Linked DNA regions of Homo sapiens: regions 1, 2 and 4 are each reported to be linked to region 3. Evidence: microRNA targets listed by miRTarBase, many of them from high-throughput screens and not tested one by one. Region 3 holds a microRNA gene; each other region holds the end of a gene's coding sequence.

Region 1 (3,222 bases), not on the chromosome of region 3:
TAGTAGAGGTGTGGTTTCACCATGTTGGCCAGGCTGGTCTCGAATTCCTGACCTCAGGCAATCCTCCCGCCTCAGCCTCCCAAAGTGCTGAGATTACAGGCATGAGCCACCGTGCCCAGCCCTGTTTGTATTTTTTAATTGTTGTAGTGTTATCTTTAATTTGTTTAGAATATTTTTGATCTGCTGTTGGTTGAATCTGCAGATGCAGAACCCACTGATAGAGAGGGCTGCTGTACCACATTTTCCTTGGGTGTGTCTTGGTTTCCATGGAAACTGGAATTCTTCCCTGCCTTGGATCATAGGGTAGTCAGCACCAAGATAAGCAAACTATATGCCTTTTGAAGTGATTCATAGGGATTTTTTTTCCATTTATTTTGTAATTGGCTTTTTTCCTTTTTGCCATTTAGAAAAAACACTGGACTTGGCATCAGTTGACCTGCGGAAGATGAGAGTGGCAGAGCTGAAGCAGATCCTGCATAGCTGGGGGGAGGAGTGCAGGGCCTGTGCAGAAAAAACTGACTATGTGAATCTCATTCAAGAGCTGGCCCCCAAGTATGCAGCGACACACCCCAAAACAGAGCTCTGATCTCCAATGCCAGCACATTTGTGACTTGTAATTAGAGAGAAAAGTGACTCTCTAGGATATGGACATGTTGATTAAGGATAACTGGGAATGCATCATATTTGGTCTCATGCTTTTTGTGTTGGTATTATTCCTCAGAATTTTGTTACGTGGGTTTATGAGTGAAACTAATACTACTGATAACTTACATTTGCAGTGTACCAAAAGCTAAAAGTTCCTTTCTCATAAGTTTCTTGGAATGACTATGCCAGTTTTCATTGCCTGTCTCCTAAAAGTGACCTACTGACAAATTGATGGAGTAAATTGATTCCAAGAAAGAAGAAGGCATTCAGAGACTCCTCTCTGGATGCAATTTTAAAATATATTGGACTAAAACAAAAGACACAACAGTCAGCTTATCTAATGCACAACTTCAATCCCAAATACAGAATCAAAAGTTTTTTTCAAGTGAATTTTCTGTTTTCACTCTATATTGTAGCTCTCTTTGGTATCAGAAATGGTCAGGCAGGAGTACTCGTTTTTCCCATTGGAAGAAAACCCACTTAAACCTACTTAAAGAAAATAGAGAGATCAAGAAACCGTATAAGTATAGCCAATGTTTGGCAATTATATCAACATTTACATTGTTAATTGAACCAAGCTCAAGGTCTTTTTCATTCCTTACAGTCACATATCAGACAAGTTTTTGATGGAAGATTAAAGCATATTAAAAACACTCATAGGCAACTTGGAACTTTACCATTGTTAATGCTATTTTATCAGCTTTCGGTTGTAAAATCATCTTTGGTTCCATTTTCTGGCCACATAAGAATAAGAAACCCACAGTAGAAGTGTCCGCCTCTGTGTGGCAGGTACAGCTGGGGAATACTGAAAAAACATTTCCTTGGAACTTTCTGGAGTGATGGGAATGTCCTATATCTTGATTGACATGGGGATTACATGGGTTAATAACATTGTCATCTGGTAGGATAATTAAGATCTGGGCATTTTATTGTATGTACATAATATCTTTAAAAACTGCTGTAGAAAAATTATTTGGAAATTAACTAAAATTAATTAATTCAACACACCTTGTTTGCTAGGCACAGTGGCTCACACCTGTAATCCCAGCACTTCAAGAGGCTGAGGCGGGAGGATTGCCTGAGTCTAGGAGTTAGAGATCAGCCTGAGCAACAGAGTGAGGTTCCGTCTCCACCAAAAATTTTAAAATTAGCTGCGCATGATAGTGTGTACCTGTAGTCCCAGCTACTCGGGAGGCTGAGGTGGGAGGACTGCTTGAGCCCAGGAGGTGGAGTCTGTAGTGAGCTGTGATCCTGCCACTGCACTCCAGCCTGGGCAACAGAGCAAGACCCTGCCAGAATATATGAAAAAACAAACAAAAAAGCCCACCTTATTTATTCAAAGAATTGCATTTACTGGCTGGGGTTGTTTTCAGGGAGTGGAGGAGACATTTTCAGACTGAAAATATACATCGAAAACATAATTTTTAATTCTAAATGCTGCAGAGGTAAATGCATTTTCAGCTGGGAAGCTGATATGTCAGAGAGTTAGTGGTTCCTAAGGAAATATATATATGATGTAACTGAAAGGTGAGAATACAAAGCTGTGGTGTAATGAATGGTCAAAGTAATTATTGTTTCTGAATTTTGGCAGCTCGATTATCATTTGTAAAGCATCTACTTTATTTTGAATTATATCTTCAAAAAAACCAAAGTTTGTTTTTGGTTGTTTTTGTTTCTTTGAGACAGTCTCGCTCTGTTGCCCAGGCTGGAATGCAGTGGCACAATCTTAGCTTACTGCAAACTCAGCCTCTTGTGTTCAAGTGATTCTTCTGCCTCACCCTTCCGAGTAGCTGGGATTACAGGCGCCCACCACTATGCCCAGCTAATTTTTTTGTATTTTTAGTAGAGACGGGGTTTTGCCATGTTGGCCAGGCTGGTCTTGAACTCCTGGCCTCAAGCGATCCACCCACCTCAGCCTCCCAAAGTGCTGGGATTACAGGTGTGAGCCACGATGCCCGGCCTCTCCAGAGTTTTCTTTTCTAAACTTCTTATAACCTTTATATCTGTTTTTATTTTTGCATTTTGAACCTATCAAGAAATGTGTTGTTTGAAAATATTATGTTTGGTGTCTGACCTCAAAATCGGGTCGCATTTCTATGTCTTTTCTTCAGGATACAAATTGAGGTAATAGAAACAGTGCTCAGCCAGTCATTTGTATCCATGGTGTTTAGTCTGTTTTTTTTTTTTTTCTTTCTTTTTGGACAGAGTCTCACTCTGTCACCCAGGCTGGTATGCAATGGCGCTATCTCAGTTCACTGCAACCTTTGACTCCCAGGTACAACTGACTCTCCTGCCTTAGCCTCCCCAGTAGCTGGGATTACAGGCGTGCACCACCACACCTGGCTAATTTTTGTATTTTTAGTAGAGATCGGGTTTCACTATGTTGGCCAGGGTGGTCTCAAACTCCTGACCTCAAGCGATCCACCTGCCTCATCCTCCCAAAGTGCTGGGATTACAGGCATGAGCCACTGTGTCCGATCTAGTCTGTTTTTTTGTTTGTTTGTTTGTTTTAAAGAGAATTTACATCAGTGCTTCTCAAACTGCACATATGGTGTTTATCACAGCACAATTCACAAT
Region 2 (3,222 bases), not on the chromosome of region 3:
TGAAACCCCGTCTGTACTAAAAATACAAAAAATTAGCCGGGCGTGGTGGTGGGGCGCCCGTAGTCCCAGCTACTCTGGAGGCTGAGGCAGGAGAATGGCGTGGACCCAGGAGGCAGAGCTTGCAGTGAGCTGAGATTGGGCCACTGTACTCCAGCCTGGGTGATAGAGCAAGACTCTGTCTCAAAAAAAAAAAAAAAAATATATATATATATAGATAGATAGATATCTATATATCTCTATATATATCTATATATATGCCAGGCTGGGAGCAGTGGCTCATGCTGGCAATCGCAATACTTTGGGAGGCCAAGGTGGGAGGATTGCTGGAGGCCAGGAGTTTGAGACCAGCTTGGGCAACACAGTGAGTGAGACCTCGTCTCTATAAAAAAAATTTAAAAATTAGCTGAGTGTGGTGGCTTATGCCTGTACTCCCAGCTATTCAGGAGGCTGAGGTGGGAGGAACACTTGAGCCCAGGAGTTTGAGGCTGCAGTGAGCTATGATCATGCCACTCACTGCACTCCAGCCTGGGCAACAGAGCAAGATTCAGTGTCTAAAAACACAAGCTGCCCTAAGATCACAGGCCTAGTAAATGCTTGAGCTGAGATTCAAACTTCGATGCTTCTAATGCTCTATAGCTCGTACTTTTCATCACTAGGCTGCACAGTGCCTCTGAAAAAAGGAATAATAGGGACAGCCTAGAGGGGTGTTTTGAGGCCAAAGAACTAGAAGTTGGCAAAGTTCTTTTTTTTTTTTGAGACGGCGTTTCACTCCTGTGGCCCAGTCTGGAGTGCAATGGCACGATGTCACCTCACCGCAACCTCCACCTCCTCGGTTCAAGTGATTCTCCTGCCTCAGCCTCCCGAATAGCTGGGATTATAGGCATGCGCCACCACACCAGGCTAATTTTGAATTTTTAGTAGAGACGAGGTTTCTCCATGTTGGTCAGGCTGGTCTAGAACTCCTGACCTCAGGTGATCCGCCTCAGTCTCCCAAAGTGCTGGGATCACAAGCGTGAGCCACCATGCCCAACCCCCAGAAGTTGGCAAGGTTCTTAAGTGGGTAGAGTATCCTGGGCATTTGAGAGAGTATAAATTAAGGAGTTGAGAACCATGTTCACCACTTTGTAGCTTGAGAAAGGAGCTAGAGTTGGCCTGGAATGTTTCCCCCTAATTCAGGGCAGGGGCAGCTTGTCATTTCGTAGAGTCCTCTGTTTCGAGGGGTCCAGGTACACATTTGGGAAACTCATGTGTATGAGGGAGTCTTGCAATAAGAGGACAAAACTGATGTTCACACAGAATCGGTCTAGAAACTGTATTCCGTGAAAGGATGAAAGCTCTTAACTTCTCTGTCCCCACCCCCCCAAAAAACTTTACTGTCACATAAGAGTTGACTAATGACCCTCCACTAAAAATTACACAGTATACTGCCTGCCACCAAATACGAATTCAGTAAATACTTGGAAAATAAGTGAATAATTTCAATTCACAGTCACATGACAAGTTGTCAAAAGCAATTATAAAAGCAATTGTATTGGACTCAGCACATCCCACTGGAGAAGCCAGGGCAAGGAAACAGATCCCTCAGCACCTTCTTTGAAATACAAAGATTTGAAGAAGGTCAGAGCAGATTGTTTTGTTGTTGTTCTTCTTGGGCTACCAGGAAGTCACAATGATGACAGACGTACAGATGTACATTTGGACAAAATGTACAGATGTACAAAGAAATGTAAAGATGAAAATTGATAGATCAATAGATCCCAATCTAAAGAGCCTCATTCGGCCTGAAATAAAGCATTGATTGACTGAGCCCGGTTTCTGTTTTCTGAGATAAGGAATGATTTAAGGTCAGAGGATAGGAAATGCTGCTAACTGCCCCATAGCCCCTAAGAGAGTGAACATGCCCCATTCAAACACATATACCCATTTACTTAGCCATTTAAAATGACACAGGGGAGGCCAGGCACGGTGGCTCACGCCTGTGATCCCACCACTTTGGGAGGCCAAGGCAGGCGGATCACCTGAGGTCAGGAGCTCGAGACCAGCCTGGCCAACATGGCAAAACCCTGTCTCTACTAAAAATACAAAAATTAGCCGGGTGTGTTGGCTGGCGCCTCTAATCCCAGCTACTCGGGAGGCTGAGGCAGGAGAATTGCTTGAACCCGGGAGGCAGAGGTTGCAGTGAGCCGAGACTGTGCCACTGCACTCCAGCCTGGGACACAGAGTGAGACTCTGTCTCAAAACAAAAACAAACAACGAAAATTACACAAGGGCTGTGCAGTTCCTAGCCCCCCTCCCAACACACACATGCTCCACTCCATGCACATTCTGTCCCCTGCCATTGTGATCAGATAAGAAAATGCAGCCAACTCACTTCAATCAACTGGAACCTCCCCAAAAGGTATAGTTGTGTGAATTTCATTTCCGACAGAATGAGAAGGATGCAGTTCATGTGCGAGAAGCCGTCTTGCAATAAGAAAGGGGGGTGGCATTTTCAAAGCCCCCGACCCCTTAGCACGAGTTAATTCTAAGTCACCACTCTATCTTCCTCAGTGTTGTTGGTCTGCTTGTTCAGTGCCACTCAACAATGTGGGGATCCCATTGCCCATCAGACTGGCTTTGGAAACTATTTGCCACACTGATGCAACTCCTGCGACCGAGGTTCGAAATTGGCATCTCTTCCGGCCTTTGTGTTTTTGAGTGTCCTGGCTGCTTGGGTTTCAGACTGCAGATTTTGAGCTTGTTGTAGAATTTGGGAAAGGAGGGGCTTGAAAAATAATACACCAGGGGATCCAGCATGCTGTTCATGTAGGTGAAGCTGAGGGTTATGTGCAGGGCCCCATGGACAGAGGGATCGCAGGCACTCGAGGGCACCGTCCAGAGGAAATAGAGTCTAGCAGACACGCTGGGCAGGTAGCATGTGATGAACACAATTGCCACCACCATGATGAACCGGGTCGCCTTCTTCATCCGAGCCTGTCTGGCCAGCTGCTGCCTCCGCCTCAGGCTCCAAACAATCTTGAAGGAGCAAAATAAGATGATGCCGAGGGGCATAAAGAACTCCAGCTGGAACATGATGTCATGCCAGCCATTGGCCGACTCCATGATGAAGCTCTCACAGGAGACGGCCGTCTCTTGCACGCAGAGATGGTTCTCCAGCAAAAGATACACTGTTCCCAGGATGACCAGGGCCCACAGGGTGCAGACGATGCCAGCCGCCACCCG
Region 3 (3,222 bases):
TAAACTGGATTTCCTTATTCCAAATCCTGTCTTTTCCCCACTATTCCATTAGACCCCACAAATGTTAGTTGTGTGTGTGTGTGTGTGTGTTTTTAATCACTGTAACCGGATGCATTTTTTTAAGGCAAAATTTCTCCCTTATCTACTATGATGACTTCAGAAGATACAATGGTCCCAGGGGCCAAGTAGAAAGCATTTTTAAAGATTAATCTGAATTAAGCTTTATCAGTGTACTCTTTATCTGTGTTACTAGTGCCTGGTATGTAGTAGGTGCTCAATAAATGCATATTGAATAACTAAGTGAATTTCTTTTGGCAACTTTTTAAGGACATGTGCTCTTAGTACTTAAGAGGCTGCTCAAGGACCTTCCTATCTATTTCTGTGGTCAAATTCAGACTACAGGAGGTCTTTTTGAATCATTATAGTTAGAAGAAGAATCCAGTTTCTGCCTGTGAACTTATTTGACTTTAGATTGTCTCATCTTGTGACTTTATAATGCCTGTCCCCTCCACTGGTCAATTCAGCATATGGAAGTATAAATGCAGTCTTTTTACTAGGCAGATATATATGCTATCTTACAGCTAATTATGAAATTGAATGAAAATCCATTGTTATCTTAGGGATTAGTTTTGAAAAGCCCCCGTTTATATACATTTGCCCTAACATAGGAAGTATTGTGTAGTTTCTCATTGTCATTTTATCTGTATCAAGTATCTTTTTTTAAATTGTTAAATAAAGTCAGCTAGGACTGTGGCTCAATAGTTTAAAACTATTTAAAGATAATCATATTTAAAGCAAATGTTAAAGATTTTTACTCTTAAGATTGGGCACCATGAAAAGCTATCAATAATAATAGCTAATTTATCTTTTACTAAGACTCCGACATGAATGACATTCACTAGGAAAACTCAAAATTTTCAAACTGAAGCTCACCAGACCCAGAAGATAAATCTTCCTTTGTTATTTTCTCTAACTTCTACCCTGTTATAGTTCATGAGCAAAGCTATACATGTTCCTTTCCTTTTCCCGGGGTATTATTTTAGTCTGTCCAGCTAACACCTTGTTGATATGGACTCTAGAATAGGATTGCGCTGTTATCCCTAGGGTAACTTGTTCCGTTGGTCAAGTTATTGGATCAATTAAACGTGGTAATTCGCTTTGACTGGTGAAGTCTCGGCATGTGTTGCTCGGAGGTCGGATTGTGCTCCGAGGTCGCCCCAACCGAAATTTTTCACGCAGGTTTGATAGTTTAGGGCCTGTGGACTTGTTAAGTGTTGTTTGCGTTAATGAATTAAAGCTCCATAGGGTCTTCTCGTCTTGTTATACTATGCCCGCCTCTTCACGGGCAGGTCAATTTCACTGGTTGAAAGTAAGAGACAGCTGAACCCTCGTGGAGCCATTCATACAAGTCCCTATTTAAGGAACAAGTGATTATGCTACCTTTGCACAGTTAGGGTACCGCGGCCGTTAAACGCATGTCACTGGGCAGGCGGTGCCTCTAATACTGAGAATGCTAGAGGTGATGTTTTTGGTAAACAGGCGGGGTAAGATTTGCCGAGTTCCTTTTACTTTTTTTAACCTTTCCTTGTGGGCATGCCTGTGTTGGGTTAACAGTGGGGGTAATAATGGCTTGTTGGTTGGTTATAGATATTGGGCTGTTAATTGTCAGTTTAATATTTTGGTCTGATGTAGGCTTATGCGGAGGAGAATGTTTTCATGTTACTTATACTAACATTAGCTCTTCTATAGGGTAATAGATTGGTCCAATTGGGTGCAAGGAGTTCAGTTATGTGTTTGGGATTTTTTAGATGACAGGTGTCGAGCTTGAACGCTTTCTTAATTGGTGGCTGCTTTTAGGCCTACTGTGGGTATTAAATTTTTTACTCTCTTTACAAGGTTTTTTCCTAGTGTCCAAAGAGCTGTTCCTCTTTGGACTAACAGTTAAATTTACAGGGGGATTTGGAGGGTTCTGTGGGTAAATTTAAAGTTGAACTAAGATTCTGTCTTGGACAACCAGCTATCACCAGACTCGGTAGGTTTGTCGCCTCTACCTACGAATCTTCCCACTATTTTGCTACATAGACGGGTGTGCTCTTTTAGCTGTTCTTAGGTAGCTCGTCTGGTTTCGGGGGTCTTAGCTTTGGTTCTCTTTGCAAAGTTATTTCTAGTTAATTCATTATGCAGAAGGTACAGGGATTAGTCCTTGCTGTATTATGCTTGGTTGCAATTTTTCATCTTTCCCTTGCGGTACTATATCTATTGCGCCGATTTACAATTTCTATCGCCTATACTTTATTTGGGTAAATGATTTGGTTAAAGCTGTTCGGTAGTAAGGTGGAATGGGTTTGGGGCTAGGTTTGGCTCAGAGCGGTCAAGTTGAGTTGAAATCTCCTAAGTGTAAGTTGGGTGCTTTGTGTTAAGCTACACTCTGGTTCGTCCAAGTGCACTTTCCAGTACACTTACCATGTTACGACTTATCTCCTCTATATAAATGCGTAGGGGTTTTAGTTAAGTGTCCTTTGAAGTATACTTGAGGAGGGTGACGGGCGGTGTGTACGCGCTTCAGGGCCCTGTTCAACTAAGCACTCTACTCTTAGTTTACTGCTAAATCCACCTTCGACCCTTAAATTTCATCAGGGTTATCGTAGTTTTCTGAAGTAGAAAATGTAGCCCATTTCTTGCCACCTCATGGGCTACACCTTGACCTAACGTCTTTACGTGGGTACTTGCGCTTACTTTGCGGCCTTCGTCAGGGTTTGCTGAAGGTGGCGGTATATAGGCTGAGCAAGAGGTGGTGAGGTTGATCGGGGTTTATCGATTACAGAACAGGCTCCTCTAGAGGGATATGAAGCACCGCCAGGTCCTTTGAGTTTTAAGCTGTGGCTCGTAGTGTTCTGGCGAGCAGTTTTGTTAATTTAACTGTTGAAGTTTAGGGCTAAGCATAGTGGGGTATCTAATCCCAGTTTGGGTCTTAGTTATTCTGTGTTCAGATGCATTAAAGCCACTTTCGTAGTTTATTTTGTATCAACTGGAGTTTTTTACAACTCACATGAATTTTAGCTTTATTGAGGGGAATTGATCTAAAACACTCTTTATGCCGGTTTCTATTGACTTGGGTTAATCGTGTGACCGCGGTGGCTGGCACGAAATTGACCAACCCTGGGGTTAGTATGGCTTAGTTAAACTTTGGTTTATTGCTAAAGGTTTATCACTGCTGTCTCC
Region 4 (3,000 bases), not on the chromosome of region 3:
TTTTGTAGAGAGGGGTTCTTGCTATGTTGCCCAGGCTGGTCTTAAACTCCTGAACCCAAGAGATTCTCCTGCCTCAGCCTCCCAGAGTACTGGAATTATAGGTGTGAACCACTATGCTTTAAAAAAAGCTTCAATTATTATTTTGCTAATTTTCTACAGTCATGTCAGTCTCACAAGAAACATCTGATTACCATTTTTGATGAAAATTGTAGAAGAGGGATCATAATATTTCAGACTTTTTAAACAAATTGAATATTTATTATACATAAAAATAAAACAAAGTAGATTTATTCTTTTAGAGAAATAGGGGGGGGTCTCTCTATGCTCCCAGGCTGGTCTTGAGCTACTTCTTGGGCCATCCTCTGGCCGCAGCCTCCAAAAGTGCTGGGATTATAGGTGTGAGCCATCACACCTGGCCCAAAAAGTAAATTTTAAGACACTTTTAGATTTTAATTTTCGAAAAACGAAATCATTTTATTTGTAGGGGTGAATTAAAGTGATTAAAAGAATTAATAACTTGGATAGCCAACTGGTATAGAGTTACTTTCTTAAGACCAATGGATAAAGCAACTAAATTAAGAACTACACATATCAGAGTGAACAAAGATTCTTTGAAAAAATAAAAAACTTAAAAAAAATGAAAAGAACTATGCACAGAAGTGCTAAATGGGCAATCAAACCCCTCATATCATGTATTATGCAGCTTCTTGCAAAAAGTTGAATTGCTACTCTTTTTAAAGTTTACTTTTGTTCACTTAACACTTTTTTTAATATATAAAATTTTAAAATAAGTTGAGGAATCAGGTTTCACACTTTCTTTTTTTTTTTTTTTTTTTTTTTTGAGACAGAGTCTTGCTCTGTCACCCAGGCTGGAATGCAGTGACGCGATCTTAGCTCACCACCTCTGTGGACTCAAGCGATCCTTCCGCCTCAGACTCCCGAGTAGCTTGGATTATGGGTGTGTGACACCATGCCTAGCTACTTAAAATTAACTTATAAAAAACATTTTTTTTGAGATGGAGTATTGCTCTGTTGCCCACGCTGGAGTACAGTGGCATGATCTTGGCTCATCACAACCTCCGCCTCCCAGGTTCAAGCGATTCTCCTGCCTCAGTCTCCTGAGTAGCTAGACTACAGGCACATGCCACCATGCCCAGCTAATTTTTGTATCTTTAGTAGAGACAGGGTTTCACTGTGTTGGCCAGGCTGGTCTTGAACCCCTGACCTCGTGATCCACCCACATCAGCCTCCCAAAGTGCTGGCATTACAGGTGTGAGCCACCATGCCTGGCCCTTTTTTTTTTTTCTGAGATGCAGTCTCGCTCTGCCTCCCATGCTGGAGTGCAGTGGCGCGATCTCACCTCACTGCAACCTCTGCCTCCCAGGTTCAAGCGATTCTCCTGCCTCAGCCTCCTGAGTAGCTGGGATTACAGGTGTGAGCCACCGCACCCGGCCTAATTTTCGTATTTTTAGTAGAGACAGGGTTTCACCATGTTGCCCAGGCTGGTCACGAACTCCTGACCTCAAGTGATCCACCCACCTCGGCCTCCCAAAGTGCTGGGATTACAGGCATAAACCACTACGCCGAGCCTTACAAAATTTTTAAAACGTGCTCAATTTTAAAACAAAAATCAGTATGGAATCACTCACATATGCTTGTTTTCAGTGGTCTCACACAATCAATCTCTTATTTAGATTAGTCACATATATGCTGATTTTTTTATCACAATGAAAGAAAAAAGGGTTTCAGAAGATAGAATCCATGAAGAGGCTAATAATGAATCCTCTGACCACAGAAAATCAGTGATCGACTGCAAGATCACAATTTATCAGTATCATAACAAAGAGGTATAATAAAGTTTTTCTAAAATACCCAATTCATTTTTACAACAAATCACAGTGATAAATATTTCTAAATGATTCATGTACTTTCATATGAGGTTATTAATATTTATGCTTTTCTGGTATTAGTTTTTTCCTACTCTTGCTTCAAGGTCCAACCATAAATTTCTGGACAGTCTCAAATATCCCAAGGACCACGAATAAACCACAAAAGTGGTAATTCATTAACATTTATTTTCACCAATGCAATAAATAAATCTGTCATGAGGTTAATTTCTCCTAATCTGTATAAAATAATTCCATTAACCTGTGAAAAGTAATGATCATACTGATTTGTCTAGGGCTCAAACCCTTAGACAAACATCTCTTTGATTACCTGTTTGTGTAAAGAAAACTGAATGCATTTTATATTAATATTTAAACTACTGATAACTGTAAACAAAGTAGCATTTATTAAAATAGAATATACACTTAATTTATACTAAATTCCAGGGAGATTTATACAAGTTTTTCAGCCTTAATTTTTAAAGGAATGCATGATTTTTTTTAAACATTACCAGTCAAGTATATACAAAATTGAAGTATGCCATTCAAGCCAGATTGTGATTTTAAAATAACAAACCTCTAAATAGCTAAGTAATGTACAATGTGTAAAATTCCAATTAAACACAGGTATAAATCTTATATAAATATTGGCCCTATAATACCGAGCGATATTTACAAGCAAACATGATCCAAACAGCACATGCAGATTCAGGGTAAGTAAATACTCGGACACGAACTGCCAGTCGCACTTGGTCTCCACGGCAACAGATTATTTCTTCACAGAAAGGAGATCTATTTAAGAAAAAAAAAATTATTCAATTAAGAAGTGACCATACACTTTAATTCCTTATTTGCAAGTAAATCAGTATTTAAAATAATTTTTTCAGGCTAGGCGTGGTGGCTCATGCCTGTAATCCCAGCACTTTGGGAGGCCGAGACAGGTGGATCACCTGAGGTCAGGAGTTCAAGACCAGCTTGGCCAACATAGTGAAACCCCGCCTCTACTAAAAATTACAAAAATTAGCCGCGTGTGGTGGCGGGCGTCTGTAATCCCAGCTACTTGGGAGGCTGAGGCAGGAGAATCGCTTGAATCCAGGAGGCAGAGGTTGCAGTG

Evidence for each region. Region 3 holds the annotated microRNA hsa-miR-4485-5p (ACCGCCUGCCCAGUGA, at 1,479-1,494, opposite strand). A microRNA usually pairs through its seed, bases 2 to 8, with sites in the 3' UTR of a target mRNA and lowers its output. Matches are read on the target gene's strand: a 7mer-m8 pairs with bases 2 to 8, a 7mer-A1 pairs with bases 2 to 7 and ends in A, and an 8mer does both.
Region 1: the mRNA of CDNF is a reported target of hsa-miR-4485-5p. The part of its 3' UTR that is shown has no 7-base or 8-base seed match.
Region 2: miRTarBase lists HCAR1 as a target of hsa-miR-4485-5p. Seed matches in the 3' UTR shown: 7mer-A1 at 977-983.
Region 4: the mRNA of CEP76 is a reported target of hsa-miR-4485-5p. The part of its 3' UTR that is shown has no 7-base or 8-base seed match.

Annotation. Positions count from the first base shown.
Region 1 is chr10:14,817,344-14,820,565 of GRCh38, reverse strand. It overlaps CDNF (cerebral dopamine neurotrophic factor), which reads left to right. Exons shown (of 4, transcript NM_001029954.3): 4 at 408-1,321. The coding sequence ends at 586. Among named protein-coding and RNA genes, the nearest start is that of CDNF, 19 kb to the left of the region's middle.
Region 2 is chr12:122,726,731-122,729,952 of GRCh38, forward strand. HCAR1 (hydroxycarboxylic acid receptor 1) reads right to left here. Exons shown (of 1, transcript NM_032554.4): 1 at 1-3,222. The coding sequence ends at 2,569. Among named protein-coding and RNA genes, the nearest start is that of HCAR1, 2.5 kb to the right of the region's middle. RefSeq lists an enhancer at 2,876-3,222.
Region 3 is chr11:10,506,827-10,510,048 of GRCh38, forward strand. MIR4485 (microRNA 4485) reads right to left here and starts at 1,500; the gene lies at 1,444-1,500. AMPD3 (adenosine monophosphate deaminase 3) reads left to right here. Exons shown (of 15, transcript NM_001025389.2): 15 at 1-753. It also overlaps the pseudogene MTRNR2L8. RefSeq lists a silencer at 2,296-2,590.
Region 4 is chr18:12,670,826-12,673,825 of GRCh38, forward strand. It overlaps CEP76 (centrosomal protein 76), which reads right to left. Exons shown (of 12, transcript NM_024899.4): 12 at 1,800-2,678. The coding sequence ends at 2,540. It also overlaps a transcript of PSMG2 not described here. Among named protein-coding and RNA genes, the nearest start is that of SPIRE1, 14 kb to the left of the region's middle.